Homo sapiens: one gene and its partners. The protein of the gene in region 2 purifies or fractionates together with the protein of the main gene of each other region. This does not show direct contact. Each region holds a gene or a part of one and is shown on either strand. Other genes may lie near its edges. The genes, in order: RBM12, GSTO2, LIN54 and FKBP1A.

Region 1 (4,291 bases), on a different chromosome or scaffold from region 2:
TTTACCAGCTGGGCACGGTGGCTCACGCCTGTAATCCCAGCACTTTGGGAGGCCGAGGTGGGCGGATCATGAGATCAGGAGGTGGGGACTATGCTGGCCAACATGGCAAAACCCCGTCTCTACTAAAAATGAAAAAAAAAAAAAAAAAAATTAGCTGGGCTTGGCGGCACGCACCTATAGTCTCAGCTACTGAGAGGCTGAGGCAGGAGAATCGCTTGAACCCAGGAGGTGGAGGTTGCAGTGAGCCGAGATCGCACCACTGCACTCCAGCCTGGGCAACAGATACAGACTCCATCTCAAAAAAAAAAAAAAATTACCATTTACCTGAGCAGGAGATGAACTTGCTTATGTTGTTGAATAGACAGGGGTTTTCCCAGAAAAGTCACTGTAACATCAGAGAATTGTGCTACTACCAGAGTACACTCTTTCCAGAACATTTCACAAGTCAAAATGATCAGATTCTATACTAAAAAGATAAGACTGAAATAAAGCCATTTTTAATAAAAAAGGAAAGCCATAAGTTTGATTCTACCATACCCTGTAAAAGCTCTACTTTTGGGAGATTAGTGATGATGCACATAGTTGATAAACTATTTCTTGCTGTAAAACACTGGAAAGCAGGTAACAATGAATTACATAACTGATCTCTCCTGAACAAGAAAAGGAGACATATTATCACACAGTCCACCCCTTTCAGATGGTAAAAGCCATTTTGGATATCTGTAGGCAGCTGATTTCACTCAGTGATTTGTCCATTGCTTAGTCAAATCCCGATTATTTAATAATGGCTCAGCTACTACCTGGAATTATATGTCTAGCCCCCTCTAAAACACACTGGGTATCCAAATTCTAATACAAGCTAAACTCTTTCAAGATAAAAAGTTTTCAACATTTAAGGGCTTTGTTTGCCAACACATCATACACATAAAATTCTGAAAAGGTGGATACTATGGACTTGAATCAAGTTTCCTCCCTGCTGTTCCAAGTATCCTCTTCTCTTGACACTTCAGCATTAGCAGGCAAGGATAAGCAACAATTTTTACCTCTCCAAGATTACCAAATCTACCTCTCCAAAGGCACAAAATATTTTCAGGTTTAAAAACAAAACAAAACAAAAACCCTGACAAGATAATATTATAGCTCAGTAAAGTACTTTTGTGCAGTTAAAGCATTAAAAGCATCAGCCTGTTTTATTTTTTGACAAGTTTATTGAACAGTATTCAAGACTTCATCTTTATAAACAAAAACCTCTGCTGAGTGATGCCAAGGCAGTATTTGCTGGCAATGTTGTGGCCATATTGGCAACAAGCCATTTTGTTGTGTTTGGTTTCTAAAGTCTGGACTACTATAGAACTGCCAGTAAAACAATTTAAATGTGGCAATTTTGCAAGGGTGGAAAATAATTTTTAAAGTGACCACTTCCAGAAATTCTTTCCAAAAGATTTGACTAGCAGCAATTTTACATTTTCTTTACTCATTTCCCGAGTGTTCTTAAAATTGATGAGATTTTACACTTGGCCCATACCTGTACACAACCACAGACTCCAGTAAAAGGGAGCTGGAATTTAAGGCTTTCACGCATCCTTGTTTTTATGCAAGGCTGACTATTTCCACCTAAAAATGTAATGTTTGCTTACTTCCATACAGTCCTAGATTTTCATCCAGTGGGTTAAGACTGGCCTTAACTACACTGAATATTACTACCTGAAATTTTAAATAAAGTTTCCTAATCGAATTTTCATTGTTGATGCTTTGACAACTTGGAGTACAAAGCTAGGAACTACATTTCACTTAACACTGTTTCATTTTTTAAAAAGCCACTAATAATAATTGTACATCCAAACTACTGTGTAAACACAGAACACACCTCCAAATTATGCTTGTGAACTAAATGTTTCACTAAAGTTCAGAAAAGTTTACAAATTTGCTTATTTATGACATACATTTGTAGATTTCTCTAATCCTTTAAATCAAAAGAAAAATGAACACCAATAAAAAAAAAATCAGAAGGGAGAGGAAAAAAAATTAAATCTAATGGAAAATATTCTCTTCCATTAATGTCAGAGTCACCAAAAACAGACAATAAAATTTACACATAAAATTGAAAATATCATGATAGTGTTTACAAATGCACACAACTTTGAGCAAAGCTTTACAAATCCTTCATACCATACAAAGCAAATGAGAAAATAATGTCAATTCATTTCTACCCCAAACCTAGTTCTTAGGAGAAAATTCGCAGGAAGAGAGGTATGAGTAGTTTCACAGAATACATTTTCAAGAATTTTTTAAAAACTGAAACTCCAATGCCCAGAACAAGATAAACAGTATCCTTAGCAGTTAGCACTGTTAATAAATCTCAGATACACAAAAATCAAGTTCCAGAGGGCAAAGCATTTAATTACAGTCCACAACGAGCACTGTTGTGATTCATATAAAACATAGTTCTCTCCAATTTCTACACAAACCGCTCTTTTAATTTATTTAATTAGATGAACAATGAAATCGTTTTCCTTTTCAGCATTTATCTAAGATGTAGAAATAACAAAGTAGTTGCAATAAAGTGTATGAAATATTTAATAAGAATGTACGAACATATAACCAAAATAAATTGTGAAAAAAGATAAAAGACTTTCATCTTCAAACAACCCATTTTTCTAAAATGAAAATAGCTTTCCAATGGAGAAAATATCTGTGGCTGAAATACAACTCTCAAGCAGTGCTGAAGTTTTTTGCATTGTCTTTGGAATGAGAAATGATTACTTAACATTAACTTAAATTAAACAGCATATACAAACGTTATATTGCTTTTGAAATTGAGGAGGCAGTATCTAGTGATCGGTCAAAGCAAATCTGTATTCATGAATTATCAAAAGACCCACAACATAGTCACCTCTTGAGTCTAAACAATCCTTCTCTTAAACAAAAATCCTGTACTGTCAATCCTCTAAGATTGTAGTGATAAAAAGCCTTTTCAAATCTTATCAAATGAAACTGTTGCCACTCTTAAATTACACAACCGCTGTATTTCAGTGTTCCACTGACTCACAACACCAAAAAGGCACTGTATATATATATAGTTTAATAGGAAATACTTATTTTAAAAGACTGACCCCTTTGTAACTACGCTGATTTGTAGGAAATGTTGGGGATGTTTCAAACGAAGACAAAGGGGCCATGTAAAAGATAAAATTTGGTTTTCATGATCTCTCATCTATCTCTCCTTCTGTATTGTTTATAATGTGACACATTTTCAGAGCATTGACTAGGGAAAGTAACCATAACTAGAGCCCTGTAAGGCCAAGTTTTTCATCACAAGGAAAGTAACCATAATTAGAGCCTTTTATGACAGTGAGAAAATTTGTTTTTCATATCATCTCACCTATCTCCCCTTCCGTATTGTTTATAATATAATGTGACACATCTTCAGAGCACTGACTAGGGAAATCATAATTAGAGCCTTGTAAGGCAAGTGTTTTCATGACAAGGACACTTACCAACCAGAACTCATGTGGTCCTCCTGCCTTAGTGTCCTGAATACCAAAGAAAAGAGTATGAAAGGGTCAAGAATCTCAATTTTCTCCTCTGGCGGCTGCACTTGTACTCTGTATGAAGACTTTTAGTAAACAGGCTCCTGATCGAACAACTATGCCAAAAAGCCTCCAAATAACAGGACTAACACGTATCAATCTACGAACCAGCATACGGATCTTTTATTCTATACTACTACTGCTAACAAAGATAATTTCAACTTCAGTTTTAAAAACCTAGATATAACACTTTCTTATGAATGGGCCCCTCTTTGTTTAAAGGCCAAAATTTCACATAATCGGGACAGGAGGAAATTGATACTACAATTAGTCCATATGAAAAGGACTTCAAATCAAGTATCTTAAACACATTATTAAAAGTGGTTTCTGGTTTTCGATACCATCCAAACAACATGAACAATTTTTAAACTGACTAACCTAAATCGTGGCGGTCAAACCAAAAAGGCTCTGGTAGATAAAGGACTCCATAGTTTATTTTTATGGCAAAAGTCTTATTCCACACAGTTTTAAGTGTGACATTAGAAATCAAAGTTTGAGGTTATAGCACAAACGAAGTGTGGACTTTTATATTTAGGGAAAAAAACCAACAAAACAGTTCTGCTCATTTACAAATGAGTCAATTAGACAAACAAAGCAGCAACTTCTGAAGCAGGACTGTCTATACAGCAAGGACCCTTAAGAAGCAATAAAGGTACATACAATGAATCTGTATACAGAAATTTTATTCAATTTTAAAAGAA
Region 2 (4,553 bases):
TATTATTCTATTATTTATGTGATGGGAAAGGGTATATCAGAAAGCTATTGAAAGAAGTACAGCAAATATTAGCAGCTGTCAGAATTGGATGATGAAGGAAGTAACCCAACTAGCAACAGCACTAATACACTTAACGAGGCATCCTGAGTCAGGGATAATCAGTTCCCAAGTGTGAAAGAATGGTGGTTACAACTAAAATGGCATGTTAGTAAACATGCTAAATCAGCTAGCAAATCCAAGAGAAATAACAACGTATATTCATGCAAAAACCTGCATGGTGTTCACAGCAACATTATCCATATTAGTTCCAAGAGTGGAACCTTCCCAGATGTGGATAAACAAAATGTGCGTATTCACACATGGAATATTATTTAGCCATAAAAAAGAATGAAGGATGAACCTTAAGAACATTATGGTATGTGAAAATAGCTCATGAAATGCTACATGTTGTATGATTCCACTTATATGAAGTGTCTAGAATAAGTCAATCCATAGAGACAGAAAGCAGATCAGTGGCTGCGTACAGCCACAGGGATTGAGAAGAAATGGAAAATGACAGCTTACAAGTGAGCAGTTTTTCTGGGGGATGATAAAAAAAACGCTCTGAAATTAAATACTGGTGATAGTTGCACAACTCACTTAATATACTAAAAGCCAGTGAATTGTACACTGGAAAAGGGTGAATTTTGTGGCATATGAATTATATCTCAATAACTTATTAAAAATAGCTAGTAATAATGAATTTAGTTTATAGACATGTTAACTTAGATGATAAAAAATTTAGCTTGTAGTCTACTATATATAAAAGGATACAGAAAATTGTTTTCAGTGACGAATTAACCAGGTATAAACTTTCTTTTCTTCCTATCCTGGTGATATCAAAGGAGAAACAATTAAACAATATATAAATAATTTCATCACTGGAAATTAATAAAAATTAAGAAAGAGCAAAAGCAAAACTAAACCAAGACAATATAATCTAACTTGAATAAATGTCTTTTTTGATGAGAAGAAAGAACAGTTTAAAAATTAAGATTACCAGGTGCAGTGGCTCATGCCTGTAATCATAGCACTTTGGGAGGCTGAAGTGGGAGAATCACTTGAGCCTAGGAGTTCAAGACCAGCCTGAGCAACATAGTGAGACCTCGTCTCCACAAAAAATTAAAACAAATAAAAACAAAAACAAAACAGTTGGGCATGGTGGCCTGAACCTGTGGTCCCAGCTACTCAGGAGGTTGAGGTGAGAGAATCACTTGAGCCCAGGAGGCTGAGGCTGCAGTGAGCCGTGATTGTGTCACTGCACTCCAATGTGGGTGACAGAGTGCGACCCTGACTCAAAAAAATAATTATAATAATAATTAAGATAACGGAGGCAGGCTCGGTGGCTTCAGCCTGTAATCCCAGCTACTCGGGAGGCTGAGGTGGAAGTACTGCTTGAGCCCAGGAGCTCAAGACGACAGTGAGCCATGACTGTGCCACTGCACTCCAACCTGGGCAATAGAGAGAGACCCCAATCTCTAAAAGAGGAAAAGAAAATAAAATAATTAAAAAATTAAGATTATGGGCAAAATTTAGAATCAATAAAGTATTTAACTACAGATGCTCCTGGGTGATGCACACATAATTTATGCAAATTCCACCTCATGCAAACTGCTACACATAAGGCACATGATCAAGTTTGGCAATGCGGGAAACTCTGCGTGGAAATGCAAAGTGAAGCACCCCAAGGCAGGTGGTTGAATGACAAGAAGCAAAACCATAAAGTGCCCTGTGGCCACGGGCAGACGAAGGCTTCAGTTGCTGGGCCATGTCTCATCCCTCAGGGCTATTTCAGCATTATTTATGTTATCCCCTCCCCGCTCTCTTTTATGGAGCTCTGATGATGACGAAGAAAGGACCAAGCAATAGTCAGAGTGCAGAACCAATTCAGAAGCCACGAACACTTTCTAGATTTAAAGCAAAACTCCAAAGCCTCAAGGAAATCTGACCAAATCCACCTTTCACTGCACTTGGACTTGATTTGACTACTTCCATAATGAAAATATTTTTGGAAGGCACAGATAAAAAGTGACACCAAGAGGTCCTGCCACATTCAAATCCACAAAGATCAAATGAAGCCTGGCTCAAGTCCCATTCTGAAATGGGAAAGTCAATACCTGAAAAAGAATAAAACTAAAAAATGTGTGCTGCTTAGAGTAATGATTCAGTAAGGGCTAGAAAATCTGCTTGAAGACATAAAGTGCAGCAAGACAAGACAAGTGTCATAGTTTTAAAACTCATGCCAATGTTCAGAACAGGAAAGCCAGTGAGCAGGCTGCTAGTTTGATAATAAAAGTGGCAGTAATATATCTCAAAGAATTGTAAAAGATATTAGAGAAAAATGTGGTTATATAACAAGCACAATAAATCTTTGATTTTGATGGAACTTAATTTTTTTTTTCTTGGAGACAAAGTCTCACTCTGTCACCCAGGCTGGAGTACAGTGGCATGATCATAGCTCACTGCAGCCTTGACCTCCTGGACTCAAGTGATCCTCCCACCTCAGCCTCCCAAGTAGCAGGGACCACGGGTATGCATCACCACATCCAACTAATTTTTGTATTTTTTGTAGAGATAAGGTTTTGCCATGTTGTACAGTCTTGTCTCGGACTCCTGGATTAAAATGATCTGCCCGCCTCGGCCTCCCAAAGTGCTGGGATTGCAGGCATGAGCCACTGAACCCACCTGAAACTAGATTTAAAAAACTAACAAGCAAACAAAAAAACAAGCCAAAAAAAAAAAAAAACTTAAAAAGTTAGACAAGGCAGTTATTTCAAAAGAAGAAAGTGTCAGAGTTTAAGGCCACAAAAGGTTAACTGAGCCTTCTGTTTCAGGATAACATAGCAGAAGATTATGCATGAAATCTTGGCTTGCTTATCACTCAGAAAGACAATGAGTATTTAATATATTTTTAGCTCACAAAAAATCCTGATTGTGCAAAACCATGTGAAAGAGTTACATAAATCAGGGGATCCTCTCCATTAGAATTATTCTGATAAATTTCAATTTCACTAGAATCTCCTGGAATAAATATTTTGGCATTTAAAGGAACAGATCGCATAATTCAAGTACATTGGTCATGTTTTCAGATTTCAATATTTCCTACATTGTAGTTATAATTCTTTGTTTATTTGTTTTTGAGACAGAGTCTTGCTGTGTCACCCAGGCTGGAGTACAGTGGCACGATCATAGCTCATTGCAAGCTCAAACTCCTGGGTTCAAAAGATGCTCCCGCCTCAGCCTCCAGAGAAGGTGGGACTACAGACCCGCACTGCCATGACCAGTTCATGTTTTAATTTTTAGTAGAAACATAGTCTCACTGTGTTGCCCAGGCTGGTCTTGAACTCCTGGCCTCAGGTGATCCTCCCTCCTTGGCCTCCCAAAGTGCCTGGATTACAAGTGTGAGCCACCACGCCCAGCCATAGCTACAATTCTTGCTAACATTCTATGGGACAAAACCACATTCAAACCTGTTAGGACAATGTGGAGTACTCAGTGGTCCTTAAATAGCATCAGTGAAAGCTACCTACACCGAGGCTGGTTAGTGAAAGCTACCTATATAGAGGCTGGTTAACAACAGTGTTCCTGGGGCTCAGTTATTGAAGATAAAGTGAAATTTCTTATTCAGTGACATGCTGGAGCTGCCCACATCTTTTGCCAGCTCTTGAGTTTAGAAATAGCACATTGGTAGCTCAAAATTAACCTTGACGGAAGTGTTTACACCACCCAAATCAGCAAATGCTATAAATCCGTGCTTTTTCTTTTTCTTTCTCTTTTAAGAGAAAATTGATTCTTAAACATTTATCACCACCCCACTAATGACATTCCTAAACTCTCTGGTGAAAGCTCCTAGCCCATAAAACCATTCCAAAGGTCCAGTAGAGACCATACATTGTTCTTCTAAGCTCTGCCCGCATATGAATATCCCATCAACACCACAAATTTGACAAAATGTGTCTTCCCTCAAACTCTTAGTGAAAAGCATCACATTTACCGGCCACAAACTTGGAAACCATCCTCCATAACTCCTACTCCTTCCTCAGATTTCATCTCATCTTAGTTCCTCAAAATCTCTCTAATTAAACCTCCCTCTCCAACCCTCGTTAGTGGGGTCCTCTTTGTCCCTTCCCAGTCCCTCCTCTTGGACACTCTAATCCATCCTCTACATTCTTGCTGGGCTGAACTTCTTCTTCTTCTTTTTTTTTTTTTTTGAGATAGGGTTTCACTGTGTTGTCCAGGCTGGAGTGCAGTGGTGCAATTATAGCTCACTGCAGCTTCAACCTCCTAGGCTCCAGTGATCCTCTCATCTCAGCCTCCCAAGTACCTAGGACTACAGGCATAAGCCACCATGCCAAGCTAACATTTTGTATTTTTTAAAGAGATGGAGGTTTGCCATGTTGACCAGGGTGTTCTCAAACTTCTGGGCTCAAGCGATCCTACCGTCTTGGCTTCTCAAAGTGCTGGGATTACAGACATGAGCCACTGTGCTCAGCTGGGCTGAATACTTTTTCTTT
Region 3 (4,553 bases), on a different chromosome or scaffold from region 2:
CCCTTAAAGCCATGTGAGCATGCCTCTAAAATACTTGTTGAAATATTTCAAACAGAAAAATTACAGAAATAGTCAATTCCCAAATACTCTATTCAGATTCACCAATTTCACTACACTAGTTTTATTATTCTCTTTCATTCTGAGTATGTTTCCAAAATGATGATGCTAACTATTTTTTATCTTTATTTTTCAAGACAAGGTCTTGCTCTGTTGCCCAGGCTGGAGTGCAGTGCTGTGATCTCAGCTCACTGCAACCTCCCAGGCTCAAGCAATCCTCCTGCCTCAGCCTCCTGAGTAGCTGGAACTCTATGCACATGCCACCATGCTCTCCTAATTTTTAAATTTTTTTGTAGAGATGCGGTCTCACTATATTGCCCAGGCTAATCTCCACCTCCTGGGCTCAAGTGATCCTCCTGGCTCAGTCTCCCAGAGTGCTGGGATTCCAGGCTTAAGCCACTGCACCTGCCCAACTATTTTTAAAATTATGTGAGGTCCTCATTTTTTGTTGATGTTTATTTGTTTATCTATTAATTACTGGCTTTTGCAATATCAGCTTAGAAGCCGTGCTTAATTACCCGGAATCAGTCCACATCCCACTTCCATTTCCTCCTCCACACACTCCTTTTCCTCACTGCTTTTTATAATTGAATCCCAAGAGTTTTGAGGCAATCTCAACTTTTGTTTTCTTAGAAGGGACAGTGTTTGTGGAGTGTTCTTTAGCAGCTATTGATAACTTCTTTTAAAAAAATTATTCCATACTTGTCTCTACCTCTTTCATGTTACAACTTGCCTTTGAACCTAGTGTAAATAGAACAACGTAGCAAACTTTTTATTTTAGATGGACACATTTAACATTGGTTAAAGCTTTATTTCTGGAGGGATTTATAGATTGGAGACTTCTCTAATTTTAAATTAGTTTTAGGTCTAATTTTTTAAATTTTAAATTAGTTGTAGCAACTAAATTAATTTTAGTTACTATTAATTGATTAAATGTATATCTTTTTTTCTATCTGTACAGCATAATCCCATCAGAGTCGGCCAGTCGGCCCCGAAAGCCCTGTAATTGTACAAAATCACTGTGTTTGAAATTGTAAGTGTTTTTGCAACTGTTTGCTTATTTAATGTAATTAGAAATGCACTTAAAAGTAAATGGAGTTAACTAAAAATTTTTAGCAGACCAAAGCTCATAAGTCTAAGTAATTTAAATAAACATACAAATGAATGTTTGAACATATATGGCAGTGTAAAAATATTATTTCATTCATCTAGAAAGAAATATTTAGAGTCCTTACCATACATGAATCACTGGAGTAGGGGTTAGGGACATAGCAGCATGAGACAGACATAGCTTCTGCCCTTAATAATAATGTTTGATCTTATTTATGACTTTTGTATTTGGTCTCCTAAGTGATGATACTCTAGGTAGTTTTAAAAGTCACTGAATGGTTAATTTGCTTATTAGCATTAAAAAGACTTGACATGAAATAGTTAAATGAAAAGCATTGGTCTTATTGGGGCATAGAATCCAAAGTACTATTACTATAACTCAGATGAGCCAGTTCAACTATTAGAATATAGCTAGTGTTTTTCCTTTTTCAGAATTTTGAAATGCCTTACTTTGGGGGCACATAAAATTTATATGTGTGACATATAATTTATATAATTTATATGTGTGACAGCTCTTGTGTGACAGCTGTTATTGGTTGGACTAAGTTTTTAGGCCACATTTCTAGTACTTGGTGATTTAAACTTTGAGCCTTAGTATGTGGTTGACAATATGTGTTGTTAACTCTTTAACTGGGTAGCTGAGTAGATTTCTGAGATGCTTTACCACATATGTAGTATGTGTACAATATATATACAATGTATGCATAATCAGATAATTAGTTTTCCTTAATAATGACTTTTTACCTTATACTGACTTTTACCTTTCAGGTATTGTGATTGCTTTGCAAATGGTGAATTTTGCAACAACTGCAATTGTACTAATTGTTACAACAATTTGGAACATGAAAATGAAAGGCAAAAAGCAATAAAGGTGATTATTTTTTATTTCATTTAACTGACAGAAATATCCAGTTTCATCAGTTTTATAAAACTCAATTGTCTTGCAAAGAAACGTTATCAATTCCTTTTGCAGTGTTTAAATTTCATCTACTGTGATTTAACTCTAACTGATATTTGATCTGTTTTGCTAGGCATGCCTTGACAGAAATCCAGAAGCCTTTAAGCCTAAGATAGGGAAAGGAAAGGAGGGAGAATCTGATCGACGTCATAGCAAAGGGTGTAATTGCAAACGATCAGGATGTCTTAAAAACTACTGTGAATGCTATGAGGTGAGATGCTGGGTGCGGAAAATAATATCTTTTAAAAACAGTTTTAGAAAGGACCTACTACAAAAATTTACTTGAAAATTGGGAAATCACCTTGCTATTGCAATTTGAAAATATGCACAGTTGGTGCAAAGGCCCTTGTTTTAGGAAGGCCTTCGAGCCTCTGTAGCAGGGCTTCGGAGGAATACCTTGGGTTTATTATTACAGCTTGGGGTCTTACTGGGTGATTTACCATAACTTCTTGGTCATTATGCTCAGAAAGTATGCAGATCAGAACACCAATATATTGATTTTCAATAAAAATAATATCAAAGTGGATTGGAAACTCTCCAGCAGTGATTCTCACCTGAGGTGCAGTTCTACTTACTGTTCTTCACAGGCTTCTTAGAAATATATGGCCGGGTGCGGTGGCTCACACCTGTAATCCCAGCACTTTGGGAGGCAGAGGCGGGCAGATCACTTGAGGTCAGGAGTTCGAGACCTGCCTGGTCAACATGGTGAAACCCCGTCTGTACTAAAATACAAAAATTAGCCGGGCATGGTGGCAGGTGCCTGTAATCCCAGCTACTCGGGAGGCTGAGGCACGAGAATCGCTTGAACCCAGGAGGTGGAGATTGCAGTGAGCCGAGATCATGGCACTGCACTCCAGCTTGGGCAACAGAGCAAGACTCTGTCTCAAATATATAAATATATATTATAAATATATAAATATATATATATATATGGATACAAAATAGCCTGCATCCCAAGGTACAGTCTGGAAATTAAAGGATTATCTTGACCAAAATGCTGGTTATGCCCACTCAAAGAGCACACTGCTCTGCGGAAAACCAAAGTATGTTAAGTTTGCTTTGTGAGCATAAAAATAGGAAAGGGGGATCTGGCATTCTGCTGGATGAGGTTACTGGTCACGGTAGGCAATTGTCTCCATTTTCACTGTTTTGTTGTTCCACTGAGCTGGTTATTTTTACTTATGGGTCAGGCGTCTTCTCTGGAAGATGTAGTTGAAACTCTGCTCTGACAAATGCCATATAAATCTTCCCCTTCTTGCTTTAGACACAGTACTATATAGTTTTATTTTAGAAGCTTATGTGTAACAATCTAGTGATTGAGATTAACCCTAGATTACCATAATTGGTTTCTTGGTATGCCTGAAACTCTTTACTGACAGTCTTTTGGGTGGTTGAGTTATTCCTCTTCTTGGCTCTTCTCATACTCTCATATATTTTCATTCTTTCTTATTCTCAGAGAATTAATTAATTAATTAGTTTATTTATTTATTGGCAGAAAGCCTAGCTTTGCACTTGCTGAAGGTTTGCCCTGCCACAGGAGCATGTCCTCCAGTTCAGTGCCCTCTCCCATACAGCATGTGTCATATGAAAGATTTTGTGTATTGCATTCTCTGTGTAATGAATTCTTTCCTAATCTACTTATTTACAAAGTCAAATACTCCTCTCAGGAAGTAAAGTAGAATAGGGAATAGGAGAGTAACATCTTGTGAGTTCTGCAGATGATATGAATGAAAATTGCATAAAGAGACAAGTTTTTTGTTGTTGTTGTTGTTGTTATTTTGTTTTTGAGACGGAGTCTCGCCCTGTCGCCCAGGCTGGAGTGCAGTGGTGCGATCTTGGCTCACTGTAATATCCGTCTCCTGGGTTCAAGCGATTCTCCTGCCTCAGCTTCCCAAGTAGGTGGGATTACAGGCACCTGCCACCATGCCCAGGTAATTTTTGTATTTTTTGTTTTTAGTAGAGACAGGGTTTCACCACGTTGGCCCGGTTGCTCTCAAACTCAAGTGATCCGCCCACCCATCAGCCTCCCAAAATGTTGGGATTACAGGCATGAGCCACCGTCGCAAGTTGATTTTTTAAACTGTCTTAACATCTCAAAATCCAACAAGCCAGTTTTCATCCAGTGTTGGAATCTTTTTTAGTCTTTCTTCTTTTGAATACCTGATGAAATAGCCGGCTTGCGTTTAGAAGCCATATCATACAAAAATTGTCACGAATATGTAAAAATTAACACTTCTTTTCAGAACATGGAAATTTATGTAAAGTTGGATCAGAAGGGTAAAGCGACCCTTTCATGTATATGGCATTGAAAAATCAATACATGCTGGGCATATGAAATTCAGACATATAGGAACTAACCATTTAATTGAACTGGTTAACAACCTGTGAATTAATAGAAGTAGAAAAGGTACTGGACTGGTTTAAAAGT
Region 4 (4,553 bases), on a different chromosome or scaffold from region 2:
TGAATAATTTCCTTTTTAAAATCAATGGTTCTCAACCTGGGCAATTTTGGAAGGTGTCTAGAAAGGTGTGGGAGCATTCTTGACGGTCTCTAGAACTCTCAGTAAGGGCAAAGTGTTCCTGGCACCCAGGGCAGGGTCCAGAGAAGCTACTGCAACCACGCAGCCTCTCCACAGGACTGTCTTTCTACATTAAATGTTACTGAGGAATACCAATTTAAAATCAGAGTCTTCTCTTCGTATCTCATTAATTTGCTTGCAGTTGCTTGTAGCACATCTCCAAGTGGACTGTGACTCACTTCTCAAAAATGTGTTGTATCTCCCACTTTTCTGTAACCCAAGAACCCCGAGCATAGTGCTCTACCCAGAACACATATTTAATAAACATTTGGTAACAGGGGAGGGGATGTTCCCTGACTATCCCAGCTTGCCCTTTCAGGCAGCTCCTTTGATGCAAACCTACCCCACATTCCCCCTCCTCTGACCCCCAACCCGTTAATAGCCAGTGAGGAAGGATGTTCACTGCTGCATTCTTCTGCCAAGACACAATCTTGAAACTGCATCCCCACTGCCACCCTCCTTCACCCTGCCCAACCCCATCCCCCTGCACCAAATGGCAGGGGAGGCACCTGAAAATAACCACCATGACACAGAGCTGAGAAAAGCCGGCATAAAGCACTTTTATTGCAATAATAAAACTTGAGACTCATAAATGGTGCTGGGGGAAGGGTGCAGCAACGATTTCTCACCAAATCACTACACAGGACAGCAAAGGGGTGAGAAGGGGCTGAGGGAGGAAAAGCCAGGAAACTGAGATCAGCAGAGGGAGCCAAGCATCAAAAAACAGGAGATGCTGAAGCTGCGATGACCAGCATCATTTTCTTAAGAGAACATTCAAGGATTTGTCATGATGGCTGGGCTTTCACTGGGTGTTAAGTCTACAAACAGCACCTTCAATTGAAACTGTCAATTAAAGTTCTTAAGATTTAGGAAGTGGTGGAGCTTGGAAAGTTATGAGATTACAAAATTCCTGAAAGTCCATTAGAAAAACCACAGGATGAAAAAAAAAAAAGGCCACAAAGAAGGCTTCAGAGGTCCCTGCTGGCCCAGGGACAGATACCTGTAGTGTCCAGCATTGCAGTGAACATGATCTACTTTCAAAGGCAGAGGGTTTAAGGGGAGGGTGGGTGGGAATGGTGGAGGCAAAGGCTCTCCCCATCCCCACCTCAGTTTTAGGTAGGGCTTTTAATTTAACCCAAAGACATCTCTCAACTTGGAGAGTAATTCAGTCCTCAACAGCGCCTCAAATCTGCTATGGCTTTGCAGCGCAGCAGCAAGAATGTTTAATATATAATAGATAAAAATTTCATCCAAAAAATTAAAATAAAATATTCTTGCAAACCCCCCCCCCAACACCAATTCCTATTCTAATGTTAACCTACCACTTGTGCTGTTAATACTTGACCATGTACTTAATTGGAAACCTATATCCAAAAGACTGAAACTGAATCTTCACCCCAAAATGAAAACAAAATAAAATGAATAACTTGAGGTTTATGGCATATAGTTTAGGTAAACACACATACGAGGAGAAAGGGGAAGAGGAAACAGAGGTGTCGGAAGCAAAGCTGAGTGACAGAACACATTCAGTCAGGGCAGATGTCTATACAAAGTGGAGTGGAACATCAGGAAAAGCTCCATATGGATTCATGTGCACATGTCTGGAGGCACCAGATCCCTCCATGGCAGATCTGTTGGGGACAGAAAATCTGTGAGTTTCCAGCAACTCAGTGTTCTTTGTGTGCAGTGGCGACAGCCACGATGCCATCTGCCACGCCAAATCCCTTCCCCAACAGCTGAGCAGTCTGAGACCAAGCCACTTCTGTTCCAGCTGGAGACAGCCAGAAAGACTTGGGCTGGGTCCCAGGTGAAACAAACTTTCTCCTTAAATTGATCTGTGTGTTTTGTTTAATCTAAGGTTAAGTTTGCCTTGCTGAGGACAGCAGGAGGGCTAGCCACCCATGCTGCTGACAATACAGTTCCCCACTATCATTGGGTCTCAAACTGTGCTACATATAGGCATCACCTGGGGGCTTTAAAAAACTCTTAATGCCTGGGTTCCACTCCCATGATTATGATTAACTGGTTTAGGGTTTGACCTGGGCATCAGGAAAGTCTTAAAAATTTCCCAGGTGACTCTCATGTGCAGTCCAGACTGAGAATAAACTGGTCATTCATAATGTTGAGTATACTGGGAAAATATCTCCAGTATTCATTCATTCACTCAACTTAAAACTTTCTGGGTTTGCCCTTGGATTTTCCTTCCAGACTCTTGCAAGAAGCTGAGACATTCTTTGGCAGTGGGTTGGGAGGGTTACTCGGGGTGACTTGTAGCCTTTATCCCTCTCTCCCCTCCCTCTACCTCATCAAGTTTACAGAAAGCCTGTTCCCAACCAGGAAAATAATTCCAAGGCTCCCTCGAGTACAGTTATGTTCAAAAAATGACTCAGCTCTCAAAGAACAGGAAAGGGATTTTGGCCTAGGTGCAGACCTCTGGGCAGACAAAGGCCCTGTAAAGTGCCAGGGATTCCCTCCCAGTAGCAATGACAGGTGAAGAAACCAGTTATCAAACTTAACCAGGCCTGTATTACCAAGGTGTGTGTGGTTCAAACAGAGAGTTTAAAAAGCCCCTCCACTTACAGATGTGCACAACAGGACCAGGTTACAAGTAGCTCTGACTGCCATCACAAATAGGATGGCAGCCATTTGTTGTGGCTTTCAAACAAAAGTGTCCTCACCCAGGCCTTGGCTGTGACCCTCTGGTTCCTATGGCAGGAGGGGAGCAAATAAAAAGGTCTGGGGCCAGTTGGAAGGAAGCCAGTAGCATTCATGTACTTAATGATTCTAACACTTACATGAAAAGTTACGTGCTACTAGGATACTGAGTTTAGTTCCTAAGAAATGAGGGTGGAAGAGGGGAAAATCAACAAACAGGGGCTCTGGTCCTACTTTGCCACTGCCTGGATGTGACCTTGAGTAAGGCCTTTCTCTCTGGCCCTGTTTCCTTACTGTTGCACAATAAAGCTGATGCAGAGGCCCCTAAGATCCCTTCCTAGAACTGTCTGATCTAAGAGCATCCTTTCAACTTCACAAGCATCCTCTGGCTTCATTTTTCCACTTCACTCACTGATAAGCTGGCCTGGGGGCCTCAAGTGTCCTGGGTGTGGACCCTGAGCAGGTGGACCGATGCAGGAATGCCTCCCTCATACCATCTAATAGGCAGTAACCACAAACCACAGTGAAGAGAGAGCCGCAGAAGCTAGGACATGATATTCATATCCAAAGGGCTTTTTTTTTCCCCCTCTAGCTTCTAGAAACACAGGGTAGAACAAAGTCATTCATTAAGAGTCTTATTTCCAAAGAACTAAAATGTTGGCACTACAAATTTGGCCTACATTTCCATAGTCCTCAATTCAGTTTTAATTTATAAACTACATAGAAAAACATTTAAACAGCTGCCATCTCCATGAGTTGAACTGGGAACATACACATGCCAATTCCTTTCCTTAGGGTGACCAATTTTTACATTCAAAGCATACACTAATAACACTGAAAGGATACTCAATACAGAAAGAATGCAGGGGGAAAAATAGCCTTGTGGTGTTTTTTGTTCTCTCTGCTACCCATCAAACGCTGGGCATAACATGGGAGGAGCAAAGGCAGTGAAGGGCCCTTCAGTATTCCATTTCCTTACCCAAGAACAGGGAGCTAAGGGAGGAGGCCATTCCTGTCATTCCAGTTTTAGAAGCTCCACATCGAAGACGAGAGTGGCATGTGGTGGGATGATGCCTGGGTGCCCAGTGGCACCATAGGCATAATCTGGAGATATAGTCAGTTTGGCTCTCTGACCCACACTCATCTGTGAAAAGAACAAGGAAGACAGACTCAGCTGGACACATGCCCCAACTGTCTCTGTAAGAAAAAGAGCTGTTTACCTAGGTGTTCCTTGGCCAGGATGGTATTGACTTTCCAGTGACTTTGCAGCTGCCCAGGCATCACCACCTCCTTGTGCAGGACTTGGAGGTTGGCAGTCATATTCCATCACCCCTGCATCTCACTCCAAGAAGCCCAATGGCAGTTCAAAACCCCTCCTGACTCTCAGAACGGTCAGGCCCTCAACCTTTCTACGCAAGTCTTAATGACTAATGCTAGGCAGGTAACATTCCAGATGTCTCACCACCTAGTCCCCTTCAGTGATCTGTCACTTAAAGGACATGTTAAGTGCCATCTATGCTCTTCTTGAAAAAGGAATACTCAACTTTGCTTTAAAAAAATATATACACAGGAAGTAATACTTGAGGGTAGTCTATTTTTTCTGTATTTTTTCTATTTATACTCTTTTACCCATATAGGAAAACTTCAAAAAAGACAATATGATTTTCTGGGCTACAAAATAGCATTTACTGAATACCATTTGTGAAAATATTGATATGCCTACAACAGAAAACATCTTTGGAAGGACATACCAGACATTTGCTGTGAGGAGAACAGTATGG

Evidence for each region.
Region 1: the proteins of GSTO2 (region 2) and RBM12 purify together in Homo sapiens (affinity purification with mass spectrometry; 2 studies listed by BioGRID and IntAct, with this or other methods). This does not show direct contact.
Region 3: the proteins of GSTO2 (region 2) and LIN54 purify together in Homo sapiens (affinity purification with mass spectrometry; one large-scale study listed by BioGRID and IntAct). This does not show direct contact.
Region 4: the proteins of GSTO2 (region 2) and FKBP1A fractionate together in Homo sapiens (co-fractionation; one large-scale study listed by BioGRID). This does not show direct contact.

The regions. Positions count from the first base shown.
Region 1 is NC_000020.11:35,647,767-35,652,057, forward strand, and holds the end of RBM12 (RNA-binding protein 12), read right to left. Parts: 3' UTR 1,159-4,291; downstream 1-1,158.
Region 2 is NC_000010.11:104,282,251-104,286,803, reverse strand, and holds part of GSTO2 (glutathione S-transferase omega-2), read right to left. Parts: intron 870-4,553; coding exon of another isoform or gene 837-869; exon of another isoform or gene 814-836; intron 1-813. UniProt on the Homo sapiens protein: Exhibits glutathione-dependent thiol transferase activity. Has high dehydroascorbate reductase activity and may contribute to the recycling of ascorbic acid. Participates in the biotransformation of inorganic arsenic and reduces monomethylarsonic acid (MMA).
Region 3 is NC_000004.12:82,933,764-82,938,316, reverse strand, and holds part of LIN54 (protein lin-54 homolog), read left to right. Parts: intron 1-1,018; coding exon 1,019-1,090; intron 1,091-1,935; coding exon 1,936-2,038; intron 2,039-2,198; coding exon 2,199-2,336; intron 2,337-4,553. UniProt on the Homo sapiens protein: Component of the DREAM complex, a multiprotein complex that can both act as a transcription activator or repressor depending on the context. In G0 phase, the complex binds to more than 800 promoters and is required for repression of E2F target genes.
Region 4 is NC_000020.11:1,368,325-1,372,877, forward strand, and holds the end of FKBP1A (peptidyl-prolyl cis-trans isomerase FKBP1A), read right to left. Parts: intron 3,917-4,553; coding exon 3,788-3,916; coding exon of another isoform or gene 3,752-3,787; exon of another isoform or gene 3,392-3,751; intron 1,749-3,391; coding exon of another isoform or gene 1,705-1,748; 3' UTR 654-1,704; downstream 1-653. UniProt on the Homo sapiens protein: Keeps in an inactive conformation TGFBR1, the TGF-beta type I serine/threonine kinase receptor, preventing TGF-beta receptor activation in absence of ligand.